Regions from separate parts of the Homo sapiens genome. Here regions 1, 2 and 4 are each linked to region 3. The links come from fine-mapping of genetic effects on gene expression. A gene starts in region 3. Each other region holds a variant in brackets. All regions are shown on one strand. Distances are between the middles of the regions. Region 1 overlaps AP3S1 (adaptor related protein complex 3 subunit sigma 1). Region 2 has its middle 15 kb from the start of LINCADL. Region 3 holds the start of AP3S1 (adaptor related protein complex 3 subunit sigma 1). Region 4 has its middle 12 kb from the start of LINCADL.

Region 1 (2,690 bases), 66 kb after region 3:
CGTCTCAAAAACAAACACACAAAAAAAGACTTGTTTAAAATCGAGAATGTCATGATTGATGAAAAGAACTGGTTATCAATATTTTTAAAAATTATTTAAGTAATATCTTAGGAACATCATTTATATTTAAAAATCAGTCTGGGTATAATTGAGACACAGCTTTTTAAACATAACATGCATTTATCTAGGGGCCTTTGTCAGAAATCAGAGCTTTTATTATGTTGGTCTAAAGTTAGTACATTTCTGGTAATGGAAAAAAGTGAACCAGTTTAATTCCCAATACCTAGACAGGTGGAAGCAAAGCTCTGCCAGATCCTGAAAGAGAGAAGCAAAGATATACTCTGAATGTATTTCCATCTATTCTATTTTGATAGAAAAATGGTTTACTATAACATTGGAATATTGGGAGAGGAGGGTTTAAGCTGGGAGGTTGATGGGATTCGGGGGAAGTATAAGAGGCACTCAGGAACCTGCCTAAGAATAAAAGGACTCCCTGGGGGTGGAGGTAGAGGGGTGGGGTTGGGGAGATCTGTTAGCTTTTATGTATTTCATGTTATTCTTAAGATGGATAAATGGGTCTGAATTTAGTCACTACTTTTTGAAAGTCAGTCCTCTTTTTTTTCCGAACATCCTGATCTTTCTAGCTCTTTCCATTCTTCTCTCTTACAGACCTTTATCTTTCAGTCTCCCAGACAGGACAGGTAGACAAGGTATTGCTGACTTTGAGAAATATGTACTATAACAAAGGGAAAGCAAAATGATGTCAAAGGCAATTAATTATTTAGGCCAGACTCAAAAATTCTTTGTGTTAATAAACCCATATAGTCCCTGTAGCCTATTTTCCATTCTAGTTTCTCCTTGTAGTTTCTTCATCTTTTATTGGACTTAGTGTATTTTACTAGTATATCATTGATGTCATGTTTGTTCTGTTTTGTCTGCCTGCATTGTAAAAGGAAAGTTTAAATTTTTTTTAAACACTTGTCATCTAACTGACAAATTGCATTTGCAGAAGTGACAATTTACTTTGTATATAAAAACGTAAAATTTATTTTGAGCATCATATAGCAGAACCAATCTTAATTTAACTCTCACAGATTTGTTTTTTTTCCATCTCTAAATTAGGATTCTAACATAAAATTGCCTGCTGGGTTTTGGAAGCTGTGAATTTAAAAACCAAAAGCTGAACCTTCAGAGTTTTGCATACAAAATGGGAAGCAGTGAAGGCTTAGAATAGTGACTGTTAAATAGTACTTTTTCCCCTCAAATGGTTTTC[A/C]GTTCCAAAGTCTTAACAGAATTGCTTTTACAGTTTTGACCTGCAGGTGCATATTAACAGTGGCCAACAGAAAATAAGATCAGAAATCTTATAAAACTTGACTGTATTTCAAACTAGAATGCTCGAAAAATGGAATTACCAAATTACCAAATCACCAAAATACAATGGGTTTTCATTGTAGCAAACCTTCTGACATCCAAACATGTCATAATCAGAATCAATAAAAATATATTAATGTTTTAGTATTGAATTAAAAACCCTGAATATTTTTGCAAAGCGTATTGGCAAATATTGGAAATATTTTTAATAGACCTCTAGTTTTACAAAACTAATTTTTCTTCTGATATTTCCTGTACGTTTTTTCACACCATAAATTAACTGTGTGAATTACTTTTTTAAAAGTTCCATGTACGTGGTGATGAGCAACTATTTTGTGTGAAACCATGTAAGCAAAAGAAATGTTTATAAGGTCTCTGATTGAAAATTTCAAAATAAAAGTAATTTATTGAGTCCTATGGAGGAAAAAATGTATAAACTTACGAAGTTAGATTATGCACTTACTAATTAGAAAAACATCACTGAGAATTGATGATTGTGGTGATATCACAAAGCATTGCCTTTTAGCCACTAAATTTTTACTTACTCTCTCGATGTGTTTGAGAAGAAGTAGCAACATACAGGTGGCTTTATAGTATCTTATTTTGAGATTGTGGGCTATGTCACAAAACTGGGGTACCGTTTTTGGTCCCTCTATCCATGTTATTTTGTCCCTCATATAGAGAATACATAGTAGTCTCATTCTCACCATTGGTCAGAATTATTGCCAGTTTCTGTGTTACAGTATGTAATTTATTACTGCTATTTTCCAGCAAAGAACCATTAATCACTTGGGTCTGTTAACTTTATTGCTAGAACTGTTAATTGGCCTTTTTTAAAAAAAATCAAGTTTCTGTTTTCAAAGAGGAGAGAATAAGAAAAGTGGCTCTAAGGTACTGATGGTGGAAGGTCAGCTCATGAGCTGGTTCTGCCTCTCTACCTTGACATACACATTTGTCTTGTACTTCTACAAAATTATGGTGAGAACCCTTGAGGTCACTTGTAATGGTCAAAACTAGTAATGATAAATCCATGAAAGTCATTAGTCTGCTCTCTTTTTTTCATGCAGGCAAATCCTATGTTTGAAATTAAAGCTATAATTGAAGATAATCCGTACAAAATGACTAATAATTTGGAAGGTTTTTTAAATTTTTGAGCACTCTAATTTTGTTAAAACTGTGAAACACCATAGTTATTGCTGTCTAGAGAATTGTCATGAGCTTATCTAAATGTTTATAATTGCAGTATTAAAGCACTGCCATTAAAACAAAGCCTATTATATATCCCCAGATTAAAAGTTATTCTACCTCGTGTTGAGGGA
Region 2 (2,690 bases), 99 kb after region 3:
TCCTTCAGCTCAGTTTTTAGGAAAACTGATAAACCTAATTCTGCTGGCAAAATAGATAAATTGAGGTAGATATTCATTTTACAAAATGATCCAATGCAGTATTCTTTTAAACATGCCCCCCATATGTTTTAAAAGTATTATTCAATTTATAAAAATGGAATTCACACACAACTTTCAGGAATTCACCTACAATTAGCAAATACACATTTCTGTAATGTCTCCTGTGTACAAAGCTCTGTGTTAGGCACCACAGGGATTGCAGAACCCCAGCTCCACTATGAAGTAATATATGACCTTGAAGAAAACTTTATTCGTCCTGCCTCCCAAAGCTACCGTCTTCCAGGCTCACAGAATCGGTGGTGGCAGCATTTTTCTTTTTGAGGTGTGTCCAAGGTCAAGGTTTGAAGTAGTTAGGAAGAAAATCTGATAAGAAGAAAAACAAAACCCAATAATGAAAACAACATATGGAATAGGGAGAAAAGTCAAGGAGAATTTACATTTCTAAAGATGCTATGTTTCTGGCCAGGGGAAATAATACATTTTGCCAGTTGGCTTCATGGTGTCCCAATCTGGGCCCAGACACAGATGGAACAGATGTTGGAGCTTCTTCCTGGAACTGTATGGCCAGACTCTTATCCCTTAAGATTCTCTGACTTAATCCTTGAAGAGACTGGAACTTCCTGGTCTCTGAATTCATGCATGTTCTTATCCAGAGGTAACAATGCTGAGGCTGTGCTCTGCTCTTATGGGACTAACAAGTGCACCATGTTCTTGGCAGTCCCTCTTTCTTTCTTTCTTTTTTTTTTTTTGAGACGGAGTCTCGCTCTGTCGCCCAGGCTGGAGTGCAGTGGCGCGATCTCGGCTGACTGCAACCTCCGCCTCCCGGGTTCGAGCAATTCTCCTGCCTCAGCCTCCTGAGTAGCTGGGATTACAGGCGCCCGCCACCACGCCCAGCTAATTTTTGTATTTTTAGTAGAGACGGGGTTTCACCATGTTGGTCGGGCTGGTCTCGAACCCCTGACTTCGTGATCCACCCGCCTCAGCCTCCCAAAGTGCTGGGATTACAGGCATAAGCCACCGCGCCCAGCTGGCAGTCCCTCTTCCTTAATGCATTCCTTAGACACTGCCGCTCCTAGGAAGTTGCTTATGTTTCAGCTTCACCCTTTCCCTCCCTCTTCCTGTCAGTAGGACATGCCTTTCTCACCACATTGGAAATTCCCCTTGAATTTTGTTAGAGTCAGTGTACAGTCAACATTTGTGGGCCTGGCCATATCTACATGTCCTTAGCAAACTAGAAATCTCCATAGGCTTGAGGGGAAGTTAATGAAACATGAACTGACCACACTAACATTTCACAACCAGGAAAGTCTTACAGAAATGAAAT[G/T]GAAAATGAATTAAAATATCAAGATCGAGGCTTAAAAAAATGTGAGAAGAGCACTGATATCCCATGTGGAAAACATAGGGGACTGTTCTAGTTATTTTAGGAAGAATCGGCTCACAGCTGAGAGATGCTCACAGCTGAGCGTTCTGAGCAACTTGCACACTGGGGCAGGGGGAGGAAGGGCAGAAGGAGAAGATGTGAACTGTCGGCCCGAGCGTTTCATGGACACTCCTCTCATAGCAGAGCTCCTGAGCTGCTAGGAATCTTTACTTCAGGTTGAGTCATCTGAGCTCATACTTAAAATAATAATGATAATAATAATAGCAACCTATATGAATCATATTGTACTTAAGTTTCAATTTCTTTTTTTTTCTTTTTATTACACTTTAAGTTCTAGGGTACATGTGCACAACCTGCAGGTTTGTTACATATGTATACCTGTGCCATGTTGGTTTGCTGCACCCATTAATTTGTCATTTACGTTAGGTATTTCTCCTAATGCTATCCCTCCCCCATTCCCCCACCCCACAACGGGCCCCAGTGTGTGATGTTCCCTGCCCTGTGTCCAAGTGTTCTCTTTGTTCAGTTCCCACCTGTGAGTGAGAACATGCAGTGTTTGGTTTTCTGTCCTTGTGATAGTTGGCTCAGAATTATGGTTTCCAGCTTCATCCATGTCCCTACAAAGGACATGAACTCATCCTTTTTTATGGCTGCATAGTATTCCATGGTGGATATATGCCACATTTTCATAATCCAGTCTATCACTGATGGACATTTGGGTTGGTTCCAAGCCTTTGCTATTGCGAATAGTGCCGCAATAAACATACCTGTGCATGTGTCTTTATGGTAGCATGATTTATAATCCTTTGGGTACATACCCAGTAATGGGATGGCTGGATAAAATGATATTTCTAGTTCTAGATCCTTGAGGAATCACCACACTATCTTCCATAATGGTTGAACTAGTTTACAGTCCCACCAACAGTGTAAAAGTGTTCCTATTTCTCCACATCCTCTCCAGCATCAGTTGTTTCCTGACTTTTTAATGATCGCCATTCTAAGTGGCCTGAGATGGTATCTCATTGTGGTTTTGATTTGCTGTTCTCTGCTGACCAGTGATGATGAGCATTTTTTCATGTGTCTGTTGCCTGCATAAAGGTATTCTTTTGAAAAGTGTCTGTTCATATCCTTTGCCCACTTTTTGATAGGGTTGTTTGATTTTTTTCTTGTAAATTTGTTTAAGTTCTTTGTAGATTCTGGATATTAGCCCGTTGTCACATGGGTAGATTGCAAAAATTTTCTTCCATTC
Region 3 (2,682 bases):
GAACGGGGAAAACGTCTAAGGACGAAATCAGCCTCTCTGAATCGAGGATGCTTATATGCTGCTTTTCCCATAGGCAACTCTAACTCTAAACAGAGTGCTTTAGAACACGTAATTTTAGCAATCTCTTTTACAAAGGGAAACATTCTCAAGCAATAAAGGGTTGAGGATAGCTGACTCAAGCAATGAAATAACTCACAAAGGTTCCAAAATGTGTTTCTTAAAAAGGTAACATCTATGCCTTTAGCTTTCCCTTAGCAGTCTTCATTCTGCATAAGAATTTGGTTTTTGGTTTAAGGAGTGAATTCACAACCAACTGGGAGGGGGAAAAAAGCAAAAGCGAGTTAAGTTGGAAGGCATGAATTCTAATCCAGGCTTTGCCAATGACCACCCCTACCACCATAAAACATTACTCAAATAATTAGCTCCTGTGTTAAGTACCTGGAATTACCGAGACCCCCCTCCCCCCGCCCCACTCAGCTCCCTCCCTCCTTCAAAGAGCTCGCAGTCTGGCCAACTCAAAAAAATACAGTATAAAAATAAGTGTGGCAGCCAAGTATCAGGCCCTACACCGATAGACAGAGATGGTATTTTAACACTCAACTTAAAGGCCTTAAAAATCAAAAAGTACACTTCTTTTCTTCTGATGACTGGTCAAAATGCAGGTCTAGGACAGGCGCTCCTCTAAATTTTGCTTCTTTACTGGCCGCCACCCCTACTCGGATGCAATCTGAACCTCCCGCCTCTCTGCCCGGAAATAAATTCAGTTACTTTTTTTCTTGGTGTCGCCAGCAGGTTCCTCTGTTCCCGGGGAAACTGCAGCGGAAGACGGGGGCTCCGGGGTGGTTGTTTCTGGGGAGACATCCGTAAGTCCTTCCCCTCCAGCAGCAATTGAAGTAGGAAGCTGCAACACAGACTGCGGCTCCTCCGCCATCTTGCTTGGAGACACTCGAGAGCGGAAGTAGCGACTGAGCGCGTGCAGTGGGCGTGCTTTTCTCCAGGGAGCGTCGCAAAGGAGGCGCCGGAGTAGGGGGACGCAATTACACAGTGAAACTTGGTGTTCCCGGCTAGTCATTCAAATCGAAGCTGTCGCAGACCTCTGAACGTTAGTAACGCAACATGTGTTTCTCCGCGACTACAGACCTCGGGAGAGGAGCGGTGGGCAACGTGTCTGTGCTCGGTCGAATGCGCACACTCCAGTTAGGCCGCTGGCTCGGACCTAGAAATGTTTCCGCTTTCCTTAGTGCCTGCCCCGCCCAGGCCCCGCCCCTTGGGCCCCGCCCGACGGCTCGGGAGCGCGCGCGGTCGCGTGCGGGAGGGGGCGGGTGGGGAAGGATCGCAGGCGAGATTACGAGGCGAGGCTCGCGCGCCCGCCCCCGCCCTGGCCCCCAGTGCCCACCCGGTCGGCCCGGCACAGCCATGATCAAGGCGATCCTAATCTTCAACAACCACGGGAAGCCGCGGCTCTCCAAGTTCTACCAGCCCTACGTGAGTATCCAGCCGCCGCTGATCCGGGCGAGGGGGAGTCGTTGGCGACGGGCAGCGCCCAGCGCGGCTTTCTCAGAGCGACCCCCTCCGGCGCGCTGCGGCCCTTGTCCCGTCCCGGCCGCCTGGCGCTCGCCAGCTGTCAGCCTCCTGGTGGGTGTGGACAGGGTGCCCACCTCCCTGCCGCGCGGTCAGCCACCGACGTGGCTTTGCCCGGGCGGTTCCTCCGCCCGTCGGTGGGCTGCATGCTTTCCTGGCTGCGCGGGCGAGGCCCTGGAGACTTCCCGGGGCCCGGCCCTCGCCGATCGGGCAGCCGCAGCCCAGCCGCGCCGCGGAGCCCTGCGCCCAGTCCCCAAGAGCCCACCCCGCGCGGCTGCCTTCCTGCCGCCCGCGGCTGCAGTTAGCCCGGGAGGAGGAAGACGGCGTGGAACTCGTTCTTCTCGCCCCCCTCCGCCGACTCCCATCCTTTCCAGGTGGACTTCTTTCTGTTCTTTGGACAGATGGGCTACCGTTTTTCACTGTGGTCCTCTCATAGCACAGGAACTTTGGCTTCCTGCGTTTGATAACTGCACGTTCTGTACAGTCTCTCTTCTGCATGTTTCGATACGTGACAGACTGCCCAGTGTGACTTTCAGGTGTCTCCTTATTGAAAAGGAAGATATGTGAGGACCTAATATTTTTATCAGGCTTTTTACCAGCTGGCTGCAAATTATTTACCCTCGAAGTAACCGGCGACGTTTGTAGTTGACTGATTGGAGCTGTGGTTCTATACCTAAAAGTTATGATTTCAGCTTCTGGTTTGGCATTTTTCCACGTATGGGAATTTGCCCTCATTTATAGTTTTTTTCTATTTATGAAGAATAGTAGCATTTGTAGAACTTCTCTTTTAACGTGTAAATACTGTTTAGTATGGACAAGTGCAGGAGGCATTAAGGTAGTAGAGATAAGTGATTTGTTGATGATCGAGGAAGGGTTTTATAGAGTTATGTGCTTACCTGAGGGCAGAATTCGCTAGCTGAAACACATAAAATTGGACTCCCAGTGGTAGGATTAATGTGAGGTATAACTGTTGTGTGGTATTGTGGCACTTTGCTTATAGCAAGAAATGAGCTTTCAATTCAATTTTGAAATTGTGCCAAGGCTAACACTTTTATGCAGATAAGTCCCAGATGGAAATCAATCTTGCCATTACAAAGTAAA
Region 4 (2,690 bases), 100 kb after region 3:
TTTCTAGATATACAATCATGTCATCTGCAAACAGGTACAATTTGACTTCCTCTTTTCCTAATTGAATACCCTTTATTTCTTTCTCCTGCCTGATTGCCCTGGCCAGAGCTTCCAAAGCTATGTTGAATAGGAGTGGTGAGAGAGGGCATCCCTGTCTTGTGCCAGTTTTCAAAGGGAATGCTTCCAGTTTTTGCCCATTCAGTATGATATTGGCTGTGGGTTTGTCATAAATAGCTCTTCTTATTTTGAGATACATTCCATCAATACCTAGTTTATTTAGAGTTTTTAGCATGAAACACTATTGAATGTTGTCGAAGGCCTTTTGCATATATTGAGATAATCATGTGGTTTTTGTCTTTGGTTCTGTTTATGTGATGGATTACATTTATTGATTTGCGTATGTTGAACCAGCTTTGCATCCCAGGGATGAAGCCAACCTGATCATGGTGGATAAGCTTTTTGATGTGCTGCTGGATTCGATTTGCCAGTATTTTATTGAGGATTTTTGCATCGACGTTCATCAGGGATATTGGTCTAAAGTTCTCTGTTTTTTTGTTGTGTCTCTGCCAGGCTTTGGTATCAGGATGATGCTGGCCTCATATTTTTGTTGCAGAAGATCCAGAGGATGAGAAAATATTTTAAGAAGAAAGTGAAACACAGGCTTAATTTCTATACTCCAGTGATAAGCAGATATTTTATATGCATTGAATCTTTCCATTTTAACATATTTAAATGCTGCTTTTTTAAATAACATGTTATGGATATATACCACGCAAATAAATAGAGCTTATCATTATAATTTTAGTGTCTATATATATTCTACTATATGGCTGCATGACCAGTTACTTAATCTTCCATTAATGGGTATGTGAGTTATTTTCAGTGTTTTGATATTGAAACAATGATATGTGGTGTGCATGAACCTTCTCTCCAGGGCCCCGCCATTAATGCCTCTCTGCTTCGATACCCCCCATTCACAAGTGTTTCCACTACAATTTACACATTCCAGAGTAGGAAATTGGATTGCATCAGCTTGGGTTGAGTGTCAACACTGGATCAATTGCGTTTGATGAAAGGGCCCCACTGTGCATCAAAGCTATTCCCACAGTAAAAGGAATCCATGTGACTGGGAAGCCCATCCATGAGGTATCTGCTCAGCTGGCTGTAGCCCTTGAGGTCAATTATTAATGTCTCAATCTCCAGCACTTAACACAGTGCCTGGCACAGAATAGATGCTCCATAAATCCTTACTTGCTGGATGGATGGATAAACGTTAGTGGCAAGCTCAGTCTTGCTGCCTAACTTGTAAAGGCGCTCATGTCTGCAATTCTGACTTCCTTTTCAAGAGATGAGATTAAAAGACTTGAATGGGACGAGGAATAAAGAGGCATTCCTCCCTCCTTGGTGTGGACTAACCCGTCAGTGTGGTAGACACAGGTATGAACCGTTGAGATCCCCCTTCAAGGAAGGATTTGCTGACAAGCAGTGATAGTGCAATCAGAAACAGTCTACAGCTGTTAGCTTCTTCTAGTTTTGCCTCAGCTGCAGAGACTCACTTTGCCCAAAGTCATGCCCATCCTGGGCACTGTGCATCTGGTGA[C/A]TGAACAAGGCCTGGCCATTTGTTTCAGGAATATAAAGCCCTGGATATTTGTTTTGGGACAACTCTGAAGGACCATACCCACTCTAGAGCTCCCTGCTGGGTTGACCTACATTGCTGTTGACTTCTCCCTCTACCTAATCCTGCTTTAACCCCCTCCCGTCATAGGTATTGATCCCTAATAAACATCTTGCAACCCAAACTCCATCTCAGCATCTGTTTCTGGAGAACCAATCCTACAACATTTAGCTTACTGTACTGCATGCCCTGCATTTATCAAATATGTATAATAAATTGGAAAAGTTGGGCCGTTCAAGAATGTACAACTTCTGCACCTAACCCTGGCCCTCACTAGCCTCAAGGAGCCTATTCCAGAATCATTTTAGAAGGAGTAGTGTTAGTGATGGCAGTAAATTTCTTTTTTCTTTTTTTTTTGAGAGGGAGTCTGGCTCTGTCGCCCAGGCTGGAGTGCAGTGGTGCGATCTCAGCTCACTGCAAGCTCTGCCTCCCGGGTTCAAGCCATTCTCCTGCCTCAGCCTCCCGAGTAGCTGGGACTACAGGCACCCACCACCACCCCTGGCTAATTTTTTGTATTTTTTAGTAGAGACGGGGTTTCATCATGTTAGCTAGGATGGTCTCCATCTCCTGACCACATGATCCACCCACTATGGGCTCCCAAAGTGCTGGGATTACAGGCGTGAGCCAGCACATCTGGCCTGATGACAGTAAATTTCTAATTCATGTTGACAACATCACTAGGAAGATATCTAGGGCCACAGAACCCCTGGACAGAAAACACTGGAATTTCTGCTAGTAAGTGGGCAAAGTGGTATCTTTGGGGCATTACCATACATGTGACCTCATTTATGTACAAAACCTGGATATATTCAAAGGCCAGTACATATAGATAGCTTTAAGGTCATCATTTGGTGGTAGCAGAATTCCTGAGCCTTCAGACTTCCACTCTGGGTTACTTGCCACTGCTCTTGGCTTCCATGTTTGTTAGGCCAGATAGAAAGCACAGAGCCTCATTGTCCTTGTTTCCGGCCCACTCTCTGCTCTTTCAGGGTGGCCCCGCCTGGCATTACAGTAG

The links. PIP is the estimated chance that this variant, and not a neighbour inherited with it, causes the effect.
Region 1: its variant is fine-mapped to the expression of AP3S1 in whole blood (TOPMed, PIP above 0.99). The same link has a PIP of 0.9 or more in blood mononuclear cells.
Region 2: its variant is fine-mapped to the expression of AP3S1 in blood mononuclear cells (TOPMed, PIP 0.98). The same link has a PIP of 0.9 or more in monocytes after LPS, monocytes after Pam3CSK4 and monocytes after R848.
Region 4: its variant is fine-mapped to the expression of AP3S1 in whole blood (TOPMed, PIP 0.97).

The regions. Positions count from the first base shown.
Region 1 is chr5:115,906,152-115,908,841 of GRCh38, forward strand. All of the region lies in intron 5 of AP3S1 (adaptor related protein complex 3 subunit sigma 1), which reads left to right. Among named protein-coding and RNA genes, the nearest start is that of LINCADL, 49 kb to the right of the region's middle. The variant A/C (reference allele first, on the strand shown) is at 1,274.
Region 2 is chr5:115,939,996-115,942,685 of GRCh38, forward strand. No RefSeq gene overlaps it. Among named protein-coding and RNA genes, the nearest start is that of LINCADL, 15 kb to the right of the region's middle. The variant G/T (reference allele first, on the strand shown) is at 1,385.
Region 3 is chr5:115,840,622-115,843,303 of GRCh38, forward strand. It overlaps AP3S1 (adaptor related protein complex 3 subunit sigma 1), which reads left to right and starts at 1,314. Exons shown (of 6, transcript NM_001284.4): 1 at 1,314-1,485. The coding sequence starts at 1,417. It overlaps ATG12 (autophagy related 12), which reads right to left and starts at 944. Exons shown (of 4, transcript NM_004707.4): 1 at 769-944. The coding sequence starts at 931. RefSeq lists enhancers at 1-307, 311-1,212, 601-900, 911-960, 1,951-2,160 and silencers at 1,191-1,570, 1,671-1,860.
Region 4 is chr5:115,943,657-115,946,346 of GRCh38, forward strand. No RefSeq gene overlaps it. Among named protein-coding and RNA genes, the nearest start is that of LINCADL, 12 kb to the right of the region's middle. The variant C/A (reference allele first, on the strand shown) is at 1,601.